Regions from separate parts of the Homo sapiens genome. Here all the other regions are linked to region 3. The links come from fine-mapping of genetic effects on gene expression. A gene starts in region 3. Each other region holds a variant in brackets. All regions are shown on one strand. Distances are between the middles of the regions. Region 1 has its middle 60 kb from the start of MIR4308. Region 2 overlaps GCH1 (GTP cyclohydrolase 1). Region 3 holds the start of GCH1 (GTP cyclohydrolase 1).

What was found. PIP is the estimated chance that this variant, and not a neighbour inherited with it, causes the effect. A credible set is the group of variants that fine-mapping cannot tell apart.
Region 1: its variant is the best candidate, but not a certain one, in a credible set for the expression of GCH1 in whole blood (INTERVAL, PIP 0.57).
Region 2: its variant is the best candidate, but not a certain one, in a credible set for the expression of GCH1 in whole blood (TOPMed, PIP 0.52).

Annotation. Positions count from the first base shown.
Region 1 is chr14:54,816,285-54,820,525 of GRCh38, forward strand. No RefSeq gene overlaps it. Among named protein-coding and RNA genes, the nearest start is that of MIR4308, 60 kb to the right of the region's middle. The variant G/A (reference allele first, on the strand shown) is at 1,988.
Region 2 is chr14:54,860,129-54,864,369 of GRCh38, forward strand. The region is part of intron 2 of GCH1 (GTP cyclohydrolase 1); the gene reads right to left. Among named protein-coding and RNA genes, the nearest start is that of MIR4308, 16 kb to the right of the region's middle. The variant C/T (reference allele first, on the strand shown) is at 1,789.
Region 3 is chr14:54,900,701-54,904,941 of GRCh38, forward strand. GCH1 (GTP cyclohydrolase 1) reads right to left here and starts at 2,126. Exons shown (of 6, transcript NM_000161.3): 1 at 1,621-2,126. The coding sequence starts at 1,963. RefSeq lists silencers at 1,311-1,370, 1,381-1,430, 1,841-2,480.

The sequences.
Region 1 (4,241 bases), 84 kb before region 3:
GATGATGTAGAATAATTTAATGACATGGGAAAATGTTTATAATATGATGTTAAATGGAAAAAGCAGGGTACAAAATTGTATGATCCCATAAAAAAAAAAAAGCTTATGTTCCCAGTTGTATAAAAGTACAGCATGTACAGTACAGAATTCTTGACAATAAATGACTATGTTGCTAGCTTATATATATATATACACACTATACTATCATTTTTATCATTATATTAGAGTGTACTTCTACTTAAAAAAAAAGTTAACTGTAAAACAGCCTCAGACTGGTCCATCAGGGTCCATTCCAGTATTATTGTCACAGGAGATAACAGCTCCATGCACTTTATTGCCCGTGAAGACCTTCCAGCAGAACAAGATATGGTGATGGAAGACAGTGATATGGATGATCCCAACCCTATGTAGGCCTGGGCTAGTGTGTGTGTTTATGCCTCTGTTTTTAATAAAAAATTTTAAGCCAGGCATGGTGGTTCACAACTGTAATCCCAATGCTTTGGGAAGCCAAGGCAAAAGGACTACTTATGCCCAGGAGTTGGAGACCAGCCTGGGCAACATAGTGAGAGACTTTGTCTCTACAAAAAATTTTAAAAATTAGCCAGGCTTGGTGGTGCGTGACTGCAGTCCCAGCTACTTGGGAGGGTGAGGCAGGAAGATTGCTACAAAAATAAAAATTAAAAAAAAAATTTTTGAAAAGAACCAACCAAGGAAAAGCACATATGCAACCAAGCAAATGATGGCCCTCCAAGGAAATGAAATCGGCACTCTCTAAATCTGGCCAGCATTTCCTTCCTTGAATGGAAACAGTGGTAGAGGGGATAGAAGTCATACAGCTTTTGATTGAATTTAGGAGCGAAAACACTTGGTAAAAATAATGATATGAAAAGTAACCACTAGGAGCCACGCACCACAATACACTTACATGAAATAAATCATAGCTCACAACTACACAAGATTTGCAAGGCACTACAAAATGGGATGTGTTGGTGGCTTTGACCCATGCTTGGTCAAGTGTTTCATGGCATGACATGTGTCATCCTCCCTGTGAGGATGGTGTGTGGGGATGTAGGAAATACAGTCAGACCAGTGGCCAGCCTGTGAGTCCCCACACGTCCGTCCAGTTCCAGCAGAGCACAACCCTTCCTTAGGGAGAGAGGTCCAAGCCTGCAGCAAGCTCACAAAATGCAAAGAATGCACTCGATTATGTAGAGTTTGATTTAGAAACATCCCCAATCTAAAAGTACTTGTCCCCTTTGGGGACAGCCATGTCTCCCATCACAAAATGAATGCCAGAAAGCAGCTCTGGAATTCTCCTCCACATTCTTCTTTTCATGAAGACTGGGACTGGCTAGGCCAGATTATCAAAAGCTCCCAGCGGATGAAGCTCAGGGCTCGCTCAGACCTGGACAGGACAAACACACCCACTGTACCACAGGCACTGTTCTCCAGGTGGCCGGTAAGCCCCATACGCGGGTCACCATGCAGAAGTGATGTGAGACCCAACCCACCTGAATGAGTCTTGAAAAATAATCATCAGCATTGTAGAGAAGATGCAATGAAAGATACTAATTAAAGGGGAGGTAATTCACTCTCCCAACCCATCTCAGGAGCCCAGAGCAGAGAAGGTAGAGGGCATCCTTTCAGAGGGGAGCTGGGGCAGACCCCAACTCCCTGACCACGCAGCCGCAGTGTGTTGACTTACTAAACAGCTAACTGCCAGCACAGCTGTGGAGCTTCAGAAGAGCCACACTGGGCTAGTGACACACATGCTCAGTCACTATGTTAGTGAACTCAGGGGGCCACATACAGCCACTGCCTTACTCGCTGGGGCTGTGCCCCAGGCTCTAATCTTTGTGGGTCCATGAGGAACCAAACTCTGAAATGGACACGGATGGCCTGACTGGAAAGAAATGGGAAAATGAAGTCCACTTCCAGGTCTAGCTCAGCTGCCCAAGCATCCTGGGGGCCAGGAGCCCCATTCATG[G/A]CTCTAGGACTTTGTTGTAGAAACAGAAAAGCCCCCTAAAGAAAAAAACTGTCCCAAGGAAGAAAATGCCAGGAATGCCGTCATCCCCTGCTGCCCCATATTCCTAAGAAGCTTCCCAGATTGAAGCCAGTAGGCACTCAGCTAAAACCGCCTGAGTGCCATTGGCCAGGCCCCTCCTGGCCCAGGGTCAAGGGGTCCAGGGAGGGCAGGATGGCTGTCTCTGATCTCCCCCCAACCCCCGCCACTTAGCCATGAGACCACAGAGCTCCAATATGTACCCATAAACACACACACCCCTAGCATCTAGGAAGGGAAATTCTATCTCTTGCTTATAACCGAGTTACCCCACTTTCTGACCTTAAAAAAGAACAGCAGGTTTCCTTTGAAGGATTCAAACCTCATTAGCCACAGCGGGAAATGATGCTTTAATGGGCCCGTGATGGTCTCAGCTTCGGGTGTCTGTGTACGCAGCCATATTACTTAGCAACACCATAGCCATTTAGGTTTAATTTCCTAGCTTGCCTGATAAGGAGGCTGCAAGTGTAATTTGTGATGCCGCAAGCTGGGCAAACTCACAGGGCTATTAGATGAGTCACTGTGTGATCCAGGCCACTGTGCCGAGCTCTGCAGAAGAAGAGAAATTAACTCTGATTTGTGGGGCTGATACCGCTCAGGCGGACGCAATTTTCTGTGTCTGGGAGCTGTGCTTCCGTCTCTCCTGCTTTCTGGTTTGGTGCCATCATTGATTAAGGGAAGCTTCACTCACCTCTCAATCCCTGTTATGATCATCTTCCAGCTTTCTGAAATCCTCACACAAACTCAAAGCCTGGCAAGGTAATAATAATAACAATATCAATAATAACAGCAATAACAGTAATAGCTCACATTTCTGAATGCTATTCGAGTGCTACTCATAAGTTATCTCTGTTAATTCTCCTTACAACCCCAGGAGGTAGGAACTACTATTACTCCTATTTTCAAATGAGGAAATCAGGGCACAGACAGGATAGCAGTTGGCTGTAAGACAATGAGAAAGTAGGGGACTGGACGGCCCACTGAGCACGGCACACTTTACCGAAGAGCCGGACTGTTATTCATCACAACCCAGCATTGCCATATCTTTCACTTTTCCAAAAGATGCCACAAATCCAGATTTTGATATAAAATCCCATGAGTTTTAAACATCAACAACTAATTTAATTGTTTAGTAAATATCGTGAGAACCAAACCAAAGAGATCGGCCAGCCAGATTCGGCCCCTGAGCCACCAGTTTGCAATCTCCACCTCATTCAAACAAGTAAGCATGTTCATCAATAAATACACTCCAATTTTATAGCTTGGCTTCTGTGAGTTGCTGGTGACCCAGCTCTTTGTTCATCCCTCCCTCCAGCTGCATTCCTCCCAGAGCCTCAGTGAGAGTTCTAGTCTTCCAGTTGCTCTAGCTACAAATCTTAGGGTCATCTATGGCTCCTTTCCATCTCTCACACTTCACATAATCTGTCAACAGATCCTGTCTGCTCTACCTTTAAAATTTATTCACAATCCCTCCACTTTTCACACCCCTATGCCACCCTGGTTCAAGACACCAGCATCTCTTGCCTGGATATCATGAGCCGCCAGCTGACATCACTTTCTCCCTTACCCTGTTCTCACCAGAGGAACTGGGGTACCCCTGTAAAACCTAAGTCAGATCCTGCGCTTCTCTGCTCAGCCCCTCCAATGGCTCCCATCTCACTCAGTGAAAGTCAGTGTCCTAAATGACCCACAAGACCCTTCATGACCTGGCCCCTTCCCACCTCTCTCTGCTTCCCTCCCTGCACTAGAGACACTCGACTTCCTCCTTGCTGCTACTCAGATACATCAAATGTGCTCCAACCTCAGGCCTTGGGCACTCACAGCTCCCTCAGAAACTCCCCTCCGCTGTCTTCTTGACTTCTGCCCTCTTTTGCTCTGTTCAGTCTCCACCGAAGTAGAAACATCTTCCTGGACAACTTATCCAAACTAGTAATCTCCCAATCACTCCCCCTCCCCTTTCCCTTACCAAGCATCTCTGCCGCACAGCATACATTTACCTATTTGTGGTCTCTCTCCTCCAACTAGAATGTATGCTCCATAAAAGTAGGGAATTTGTTTTCTTCTCTGCTCTATCCCCGGTATCTAGAACTGTGCCTGGTACATAGCCAAAATTCATTAAATATTTGTTAAATAAAGAATGGTCCACACAATCGTGCCTTATGATAGCTCAATTCTCCGA
Region 2 (4,241 bases), 41 kb before region 3:
TGCAAATACTGTAGAATTTTTGATCAGTGTTTGCTTGAAAAAGAGCCATGTCTAAGTGGACCCATGCAGTTCAAATTCATGTTGTTCAAGAGTCAATTGCATGGCCCTGACACTTACCTGTGAAGTTGAACTCTTGACACAAATCTGAAAGTTTCTTCTTTATGGAGGAGAAACATTCTCAAGGAAAGGCAAATGATCTCATAGCAACACTAAAATGTATACAGGAAAGCCTCCTTTAAATGGCAAAAACTGTAAGCATAAGTATTGCCATTCCACACATCACAGCAGCCTTAAGATCCCACCTCACAGCCTTAAGATCCCACCGCAAAGCCCTGCAGCACAGAAGGTCTCCACACCCTTTTGTGCTTGGCTTCCTGGTTTCTAAGCTGCTAGAGAGTGCACCATCTTCCTTTTTTTTTTTTTTTTTTTTGAGATGGAGTCTCACTCTGTCGCCCAGGCTGGAGTACAGTGGCCCAGTCTTGGCTCACTGCAAGCTCCGCCTCCAAGGTTCAAGCAATTCCCCTGCCTTAGCCTCCTGAGTAGCCGGGACTACAGGCGCCTGCCACCACACCCAGCTAATTTTTGTATTTTTAGTAGAGATGGTGTTTCACCGTGTTAGCCAGGATGGTTTCGATCTCCTGACCTTGTGATCTGCCCGCCTCGGCCTCCCAAAGAGTTGGGATTACAGGCGTGAGCCACCACGCCCGGCCCCATCTTCCTAACTGGAGAAAAAGGGCACTGCTACCACCATGGCTTGGCAAGAACCTGCACCCTAAGAACTAAGTTTTAAAGGACCCAATATACAGCCAGGCCATTTCTGTTATCTTAAATGGCACCAATTAATATCAAATATAAAAGTTACTCTTTTGGGGCCAAATACTACATACGAAAAACATTAGTTCTCTGAAAAGATTAATAGAGTAAATGGTCACTTGTAGGCAATTAATTAACCGAATATAAAATTAGAGACTCAACGGCATCATGGTTTGCTAACACTGTTTTCATTGTTCACTTACTATTTACATAATTGATCTAGTAGTACTTAGTGATTTTTTCCCCCATCCATTGGCACTATGCTTTAGGAATTTGAGAAGTCCACCTCATTGCCTTCCTGGTTGGCAGGAGGAAAAAGTAAAATAGCACCTGAACATTGAGGATTTCAAAGAAAAATTAGAGAGTTAAAACTTTCCCATGAACCAAGGTCTTCTATGCTGTCTGAAATTTTTACATTTCCATGCAGACACGGAATTTGTTCATTGTTTATACTATTTTTGGTCTTAAGATCCTAGGTAATTTAAATGTCCATTTCACAAAATCACTAGATAGGCCAGGAGTGGTGGCTCACACCTGTAATTCCAACATTTTGGGTGGATTGCCTGAGGTCAGGAGTTCAAGACCAGCCTGGCCAACATGGTGAGACCCCATCTCTACTAAAAATACAAAAATTAGCCAGGCGTGGTGGCGGGTGCCTGTAATCCCAGCTATTCGAGAGGCTGAAGCAGAAGAATTGCTTGAACCTGGGAGGCGGAGGTTGCAGTGAGCCGAGATCGCACCACTGCACTCCAGCCTAGGCAACAAGAGCGAAACTGTCTCAAAAAAAAAAAAAAAATCACTAAATAATATATTTTTAAAACAAAGGTAGCAAAAACACAAACACTGAGGAAGTAATAGCAGAAAGTAACAGGATAAAATGGTGACAGGCTGAGTACAGAATCAGTGCCTTGGATCTGGCTGCAGCCAAGCCACTAACTCTCTCTATCCTCTTGAACAAGTCACAGGCTTTCTGTG[C/T]CTAATTTGCTCACCAATAGATTCCCTTTCAAAGATTCCTTCATTATCAATTGCAGGATTTCCAGATACGATATGGCTTCTGATGTGATGTATCTGGGTTTTCTGATTGCTTTCTCTTCTTTTCTTTTTAGAGACAAGGTCTTGTTCTGTCACCCAGGTTGGGGTACAGTGGCATGATCATAGTTCACTGTAACCTGAAACTCCTGAGCTCAAGCAATCTTCCTGCCTCAGACTCCCAAAAAGTAGCTAGGACTACAGGTATGCACCCACCATGCCCAATTAATTTTAAAAAAAAATTTATTTTGTGGTAGAGACAGTCTCACTTGCTGGTCTTGAACTATTGACCTGAAGCTATCCTCCCACCTTGACTTCCCAAGTCGCTGGGATTACAGGCATGAGCCACCTCACTCGGCCCTGATGTGATATAATATGAAGTCTTCAGCACCCTTATGAAGCACTACTCTTTTTTTTTTTTTTTTTTTTTTTGGACACGGATTCACTCTCTTGCCAGGCTGGAGTGCAGTGGTGTGATCTCGGCTCACTGCAGCCTCGACCTCCTGGGTTCAAGCGATTCTCCAACCTCACCCTCCCGAGTAGCTGAGACCACAGGTGCATGCCACCATGCTAGCTAATTTTTGCCTGTTTTTTTGTTTGTCTGTTTGGTTGATTGGTTTTCGTTTTTTTTTTTTTTGGTTGGTTTTTTTTTTTTTGGTAGAGACAGGGTTTTACCATGTTGCCTAGGTTGGTCTCAAACTCCTGAGCTCAAAGCGATACATCCACCACCTGCCTTGGCCTCCCAAAGTGTTGAGATTACTGACGTAAGCCACCGTGCCCAGCCCTTACGAACTACTTTTATCAGAAATGTTTAGCCCTAGTCTTATGAAACTTTAGATCTAATCTAGTTTATAGGAAATCCAGAGGCTGAAGGAAACAAATCTGGAAGGTGGGGCACTCTGCTGAACAGCTGGCCTATTTTCTTTTCAGTAGAGAATGTTATGGGTGGGAGCACTATTTTAGAACAAAAGGGACTTAACAGGTATAACCAAATGCAATGTAAATACAAATGTGTGACTCTCCCTTGGATTCCTGTTTAAACAAACCAAGAGTAAACATTTGAGACAATTGGAGAAATTTAAATATGAATTCGTTATTAGACACTATTTAAGAATTATTGTTAATTTTGTGATAGTGCTGCTGTGGATAAGTAAGAAAATATTTTAGGGCCAGGTGCGGTGGCTCACGCCTGTAATCCCAGCACTTTGGGAGGCCAAGGCGGGCGGATCACGAGGTCAGGAGATCAAGACCATCCTGGCTAACACCGTGAAACCCCTTCTCTACTAAAAATACAACAACAAAATTAGCCAGCATGGTGGCAGGCGCCTGTAGTCCCAGCTACTCAGGAGGCTGAGGTGAGAGAATGGCGTGAACCCGGGAGGTGGAGCTTGCAGTGAGCCGAGATCACACCACTGCAATCTAGCCTGGGCGACAGAGCGAGACTCCGTCTCAAAAAAAAAAAAAAAAAAAAAAAAAAGCATGCACATGTACTCCAAAAAAGTATTGACAGCAGTATTGTTTGTAATAGCAAAAAAAAAAAAAAAAAAAAAAGAGGCAACAATACAAAGGTCCACCAAGAGCAGAATAGATAAATTGTGGTATATTTGTACAATGGAATAAGATATAACAATGAAAATAAACTACAATGACAGGCAATGACATCAATGAATCCGACTATGTAGAACAAGAGAGGCCAGACACAAAGAGTACATATCGTAGAATCTTTCCACTTACATATAGTTGAAAAACAAGAAAACGAATCCATAGGGTTATAAGTTGATAAACTGATACAAAGGATGGATTAGGGATTAAGAAGAGAAAAGAAATGAGGTGAGCTTCCAGGATGCTACACATATTGTAGTTGTGGGGGTTTCGTTGTTGTTTGTTTGTTTGTTTGTTTGACAGGGTCTGGCAGTCTGGCTCTGTTGCCCAGGCTAGGATATAGTGGCGCAATCTCGGCTCACTGCAACCCCTGCCTCTTGGACTCAAGCCATCCTCCCATCTCAGCCTCCCGAGTAGCTGGCAGTACAGGCATGCACCACCATGCCCAGGTAATTTTTATTTTTATCTTGGTAGAGATGGGGTCTCACCATGTTGCCCAGGCTGGTCTTGAACTCCTGGGTTCAAGCAATCCACCTACCTCAGCCTTCCAAAGTGCTGGGATTACAGGCATGAACCACCGTGCCAGCCTATTCTAGTTCTTGATCTCTGAAGTGGTAAGGAACACCCTTAAGTTTTATGCATTTTCTATCTATATATTATTTCCATAAAAAAGTGAAAAGATACAATACTTTAACAAAGACAAAAATGAAGCAAATGTTAACACTTTAACTTTAGTTGATGGGTATATAAGTATTCATAACACTGCTTCTTGTAAGTCTTCTGTTTAAAGATTATTA
Region 3 (4,241 bases):
ATTACAGAACACTGTCCTATGAATTCTCTTTAAGGGAGGATTCCCAAAGCCTGGCCGATGCTGTGAAGTAAACCACTTTCTGTGTCTGCAAGGGGCAAAATGAGTAAGGCCTTAAGAAGACATTTCATTACATTGTGAAATATCTCACACACACACACACACACACACACACACACACACACACACACAAATTTAAAGCCCTAGACCTCCAAAGAGCTGATCCCACAGAAAACTGAAAGTTTATTTTTCAGTCTTTGTATTTTGAAATCTCTTCTGAGATTCCAAACTTTTGCAATTGAGGGGTAAAAAAAAGTGAATTTGGAAACAGAACTAGAAGTCACTGCCGGTTTTAGAGTGTAGCATCATTTCCTTTTGGGGCCCCGTCTCTTTCACATTCTGATTTCCCACCCTTCCTTTGGGGTGTGGAAGACTGGGCAAAAAATAACTTTCTTTTTCCCAGGGTCTATTTGGTGGAATCGCTCTACACTCCTTCAGAGAAATAACTGGGGCAGGGAGATTGCCTTTCCAGCGCACTGTTTTTCTTTCAAAAAACAGTGAACGGTAGAATGCTTCTTAGGGCAAATAAATAAATGTCACCAAGACACACGGAAGGTGTAGACTGGAAAATAATGTCTTTGGTCCCAGCTGTAGAAGCCAGAAGCTTTATTTTTTTAAACACAGACCAATACTGCTTCTCTGGCCAACAGGCAGCAAAGTCCCCATTTTCCACTCTCCATCACCCCATCTTGCATCCTACCCACACTGATTGCATCCCCACCCTCTGGGTGAAAAGCCGACACGCCTCAGACGCTAACAGCACCGGGTCAACCCGGCTTTATTTTAGGGTGGGAGGGTGCGGGGATGAGACTGAGTCCTGGAACCCACGGAGCCCTCCGAATCCCGGAGTAGCTTTACTGCTTTTTGCGGGGTTGGGGGTGGGGGGAGGAAACAGATTTCAGCAGCAAACTCACCCAATCAACCTCACACCTCAAACTCCGGGGAAGCCCGTGCCCAAAATTGTGCCGAATTTTGTAAATGTCCTGAACTGGAGTAAACTTGAGGTGGACAAAAAAAAAAGCACAACTCTAAGACTCCGATCCCCTGGCAAATCAGTGGGAATGCAGGTCCCCGAGGTTTCGGGGAAGGATCGCGCCGAGGCTTCAATCCAGATACACACCCTGACAATGGGATCTCAATAAGGAACTACCCAGGAAGCCGTCGCCGCAGCAAGTGCCCAGGTGATCCTTATCGTGGGCAAGTTTGGAACCGCAGGTACCCCGAGAATCCCGCGCTGGGCGCTCAGGCGAGAGGGCTCCGGGCTCCCGTCCACGCCCACCCGGGGCGTTCTAGGAGGGCTGCGCGCTGGGAGCGGGAAGGGCCCCTGGAAGGCGGCTGCAGCGAGTTCCGGGGCTGAGAGGTCGCTGCCACCCAGGAAGCCCCGACTGTGCCCCACGCAGGGCCTCGGCAGGGCGGCAGGCTAGGGCGGGTTCGGAGGTGACAGCGCCCGGCTTCCTGCGCCAAAAGTGAGGCAACTCCGGAAACTTCCTGGAGCCGGCGCGCGTTTCCTGCAAGCACCGCCCCCGCCGCCCGCACGCTCTAGCAGCCCGCGGGCGCACTGACCTGAGATGGTCTCCTGGTAGCCCTTGGTGAAGAACTGCATGGCCGAGGCCGCCCTCCAGGGCGTCTTGAGCAGCCCTTGCCGCTGGGGGTTCTCGCCCAGCGAGCTCAGGATGGACGAGTAGGCGGCTGCCAGGTTAGGGAGGTTCAGCTCGTTATCCTCCTCGCTGCGGGGCCGCTCGCCCTTCCAGCCGTCCGCGGGCTGCGCGCTCTTGGCCTCGGGCCGCGGGGGCTTCTCCGCCGGCCTGCTGGGCCCGGGCCGCGGCGGATCCCGCTCGGGGAACCCATTGCTGCACCTGGCGCCCCGCGGCTTCTCCGCCGGTGCCCGCACAGGGCCCTTCTCCATGGACCCGCCGCAGCCGCTGCCGTTCGGGAAGGACCCCGGGGCGCTTCGAGGTCTGCGGCTAAACTCCGCCGGTGGCCGCGGACAATGGGCTGTGGCCGGAGTCACCTGAGGAAGGTACGCAACCTGCTTAGATCACACTCCGAGCCGGGAGCGGCCACAGGCTGGAAAGCCCGGCCGCGCCTCCTTTTTATGGCCCGGCGGCTCAGCCTGCGCCGCGGAGCGCTCCCATTGGCCGGCCCCGCCTCGCGTCACGGCCCTCGCCGCGCCCCTCGGCCTCCCGCCCCCGGGGTCCCCAGCAGGGGTCGCGGCTCCGGAGACGCCCGGAGGGGTTCGCAAGCGCAGGGAGGGAAGGAAAAGGGCGCCGGCCCCTAGGATCAGGCGGGACCCCTCCACTTATTGCGGAATGAGCCGAACCCGAAAAGAGGCAGTCGTCCAGGAGCTGGGATCTCAGTGAGAAAGACGCGGTCTGGGCGCCCAGTCGCCCCCTCTTCAGGCCAAGAGGGCGCTGCATTGAAGGGCTCCGGTCCCCTCGCCCTGTGAAAGATCAGCAAACAGGTGGCCTTGCCTGGAGAGAGACCGAGTTAAGCCACCGATTAGGAACCAACTCTTAAGCTTTCAAGGCAAGAGAATAATGTGACTTCAGACTCTTGGGTTTAGTTAAAAACGCACCTGCCACCTAGGGGCCAGGTGGCACCGCTGTCGGGGCAAGTGTCACATCAAGTGGCCCTTATGTGGGTCCCTATGTCTAGAAGGATAGGATTTATGGTTGCTAGAACTTTGATCCTGGAAAAATTGATTTGCAAACGAAGATAGGACTTTCACTTAAAATCCATTTCCGTCGGTGGCTCACGCCTGTACTCCCGGCGCTTGGGGAGACCGAGGCGGGAGGATCGCTTGAGGCCAAGAGTTCGAGACCAGCCTGGAAAACATAGCAAGACCTCATCTCTATAAAACCCATCGCATTTTCTAGAAACGCAGTTGTGCAGATTTGGTGCTCAATTGTTTTACAGTTCCATGCAAAGCGTCTTTCCCCAGATGTTGGTACAAATTGTGAAATGCTATTCACCAACTGAACTCTTAACCAGTGACATCTGCTGTAACTGTTTTCTTTGAGATTAATAAATGGACCTTTTTCCTCACTTGAGGGATTATCTCATAATGCCGAAGGTGAGCTTTAAAACATGTATCAAAATAATATTTTTTTTCTTTTTTTTTTTTTGAGGCTCACTTCATCCTCCGCCTCCTGGGTTCAAACGATTCTCCTGCCTCAGCCTCCTGAGTAGCTGGGATTACAGGCACCTGCCACCATGCCCGGCTAAATTTTTGTATTTTTAGGAGAGGTGGGGTTTTGCCATGTTGGCCAGGCTGGTCTCGAACTCCTGACCTCAGGTGATCCACCTGCCTCGGCCTCCCAAAGTGCTGGGATTACAGGTGTGAGCCACCATGCCTGGCCTAATGTAGATTTTCTGACATAGAAGCAGGTATTAATAGGCTTAGGATCAAACAAACCAATAGGGAAGCCTGTGGAATTATTCTATGCTAACAATGTAGCTTGGTCATTATAATAAGTAATTAGTATTTATGATACATCTGCTCTAGGCGCAGCCCCGTTGGAAACATTCAGGAAAGAAATATGGACATTGCCTAGCCTTGTAGGCACCTTTACTCCAAAATGGAAGAAATGTTCATATCAGTGGGGTTATTTATTTATTTATTTATTTATTTATTTATTTATTTTTAAATTTTAATCTATTTATTTAAGAGCGGGTTATGAGACTGGCTAATTTTTGTATTTTTGGTAGAGATAAGGTTTCACCATGTTGCCAAAGCTGGTCTCGAACTCCAGGGCTCAGGATTATAGGCCTGAGCCACCGTACCCGGCCCAGTGGGGTTTTTAAATAGAGAATATGAACATCCTTTGGAAAACCTCTTTGTCATTTTCCTCTTTATTAAAATTTTTAAATTTTTTATTGTAGGTTTTTATTGGGAGTGGGGCCCTGCAACATTTTTTTCCTCTAACTGTGCTGCCCACTGTCTGCTGATACCTCCTGGTCAGAATTATCTGCTGGGTCTCAAGCTATTTCAAGCATAGTTGAAGACAACATTCAAAGGATGACCTTGCATTTAACAAATGAAAACAAAGATACTAAGTGAGGTACTTTAAAAATGGAGAGAGTAGATAGAGATGCTTTCAGTACGAATTTATTTTTAGTGGCAATCTTTCGTCTTCCTTTAAAAACATGTGTAAAGATTAACTAATATTGTATTCCACAAAGAC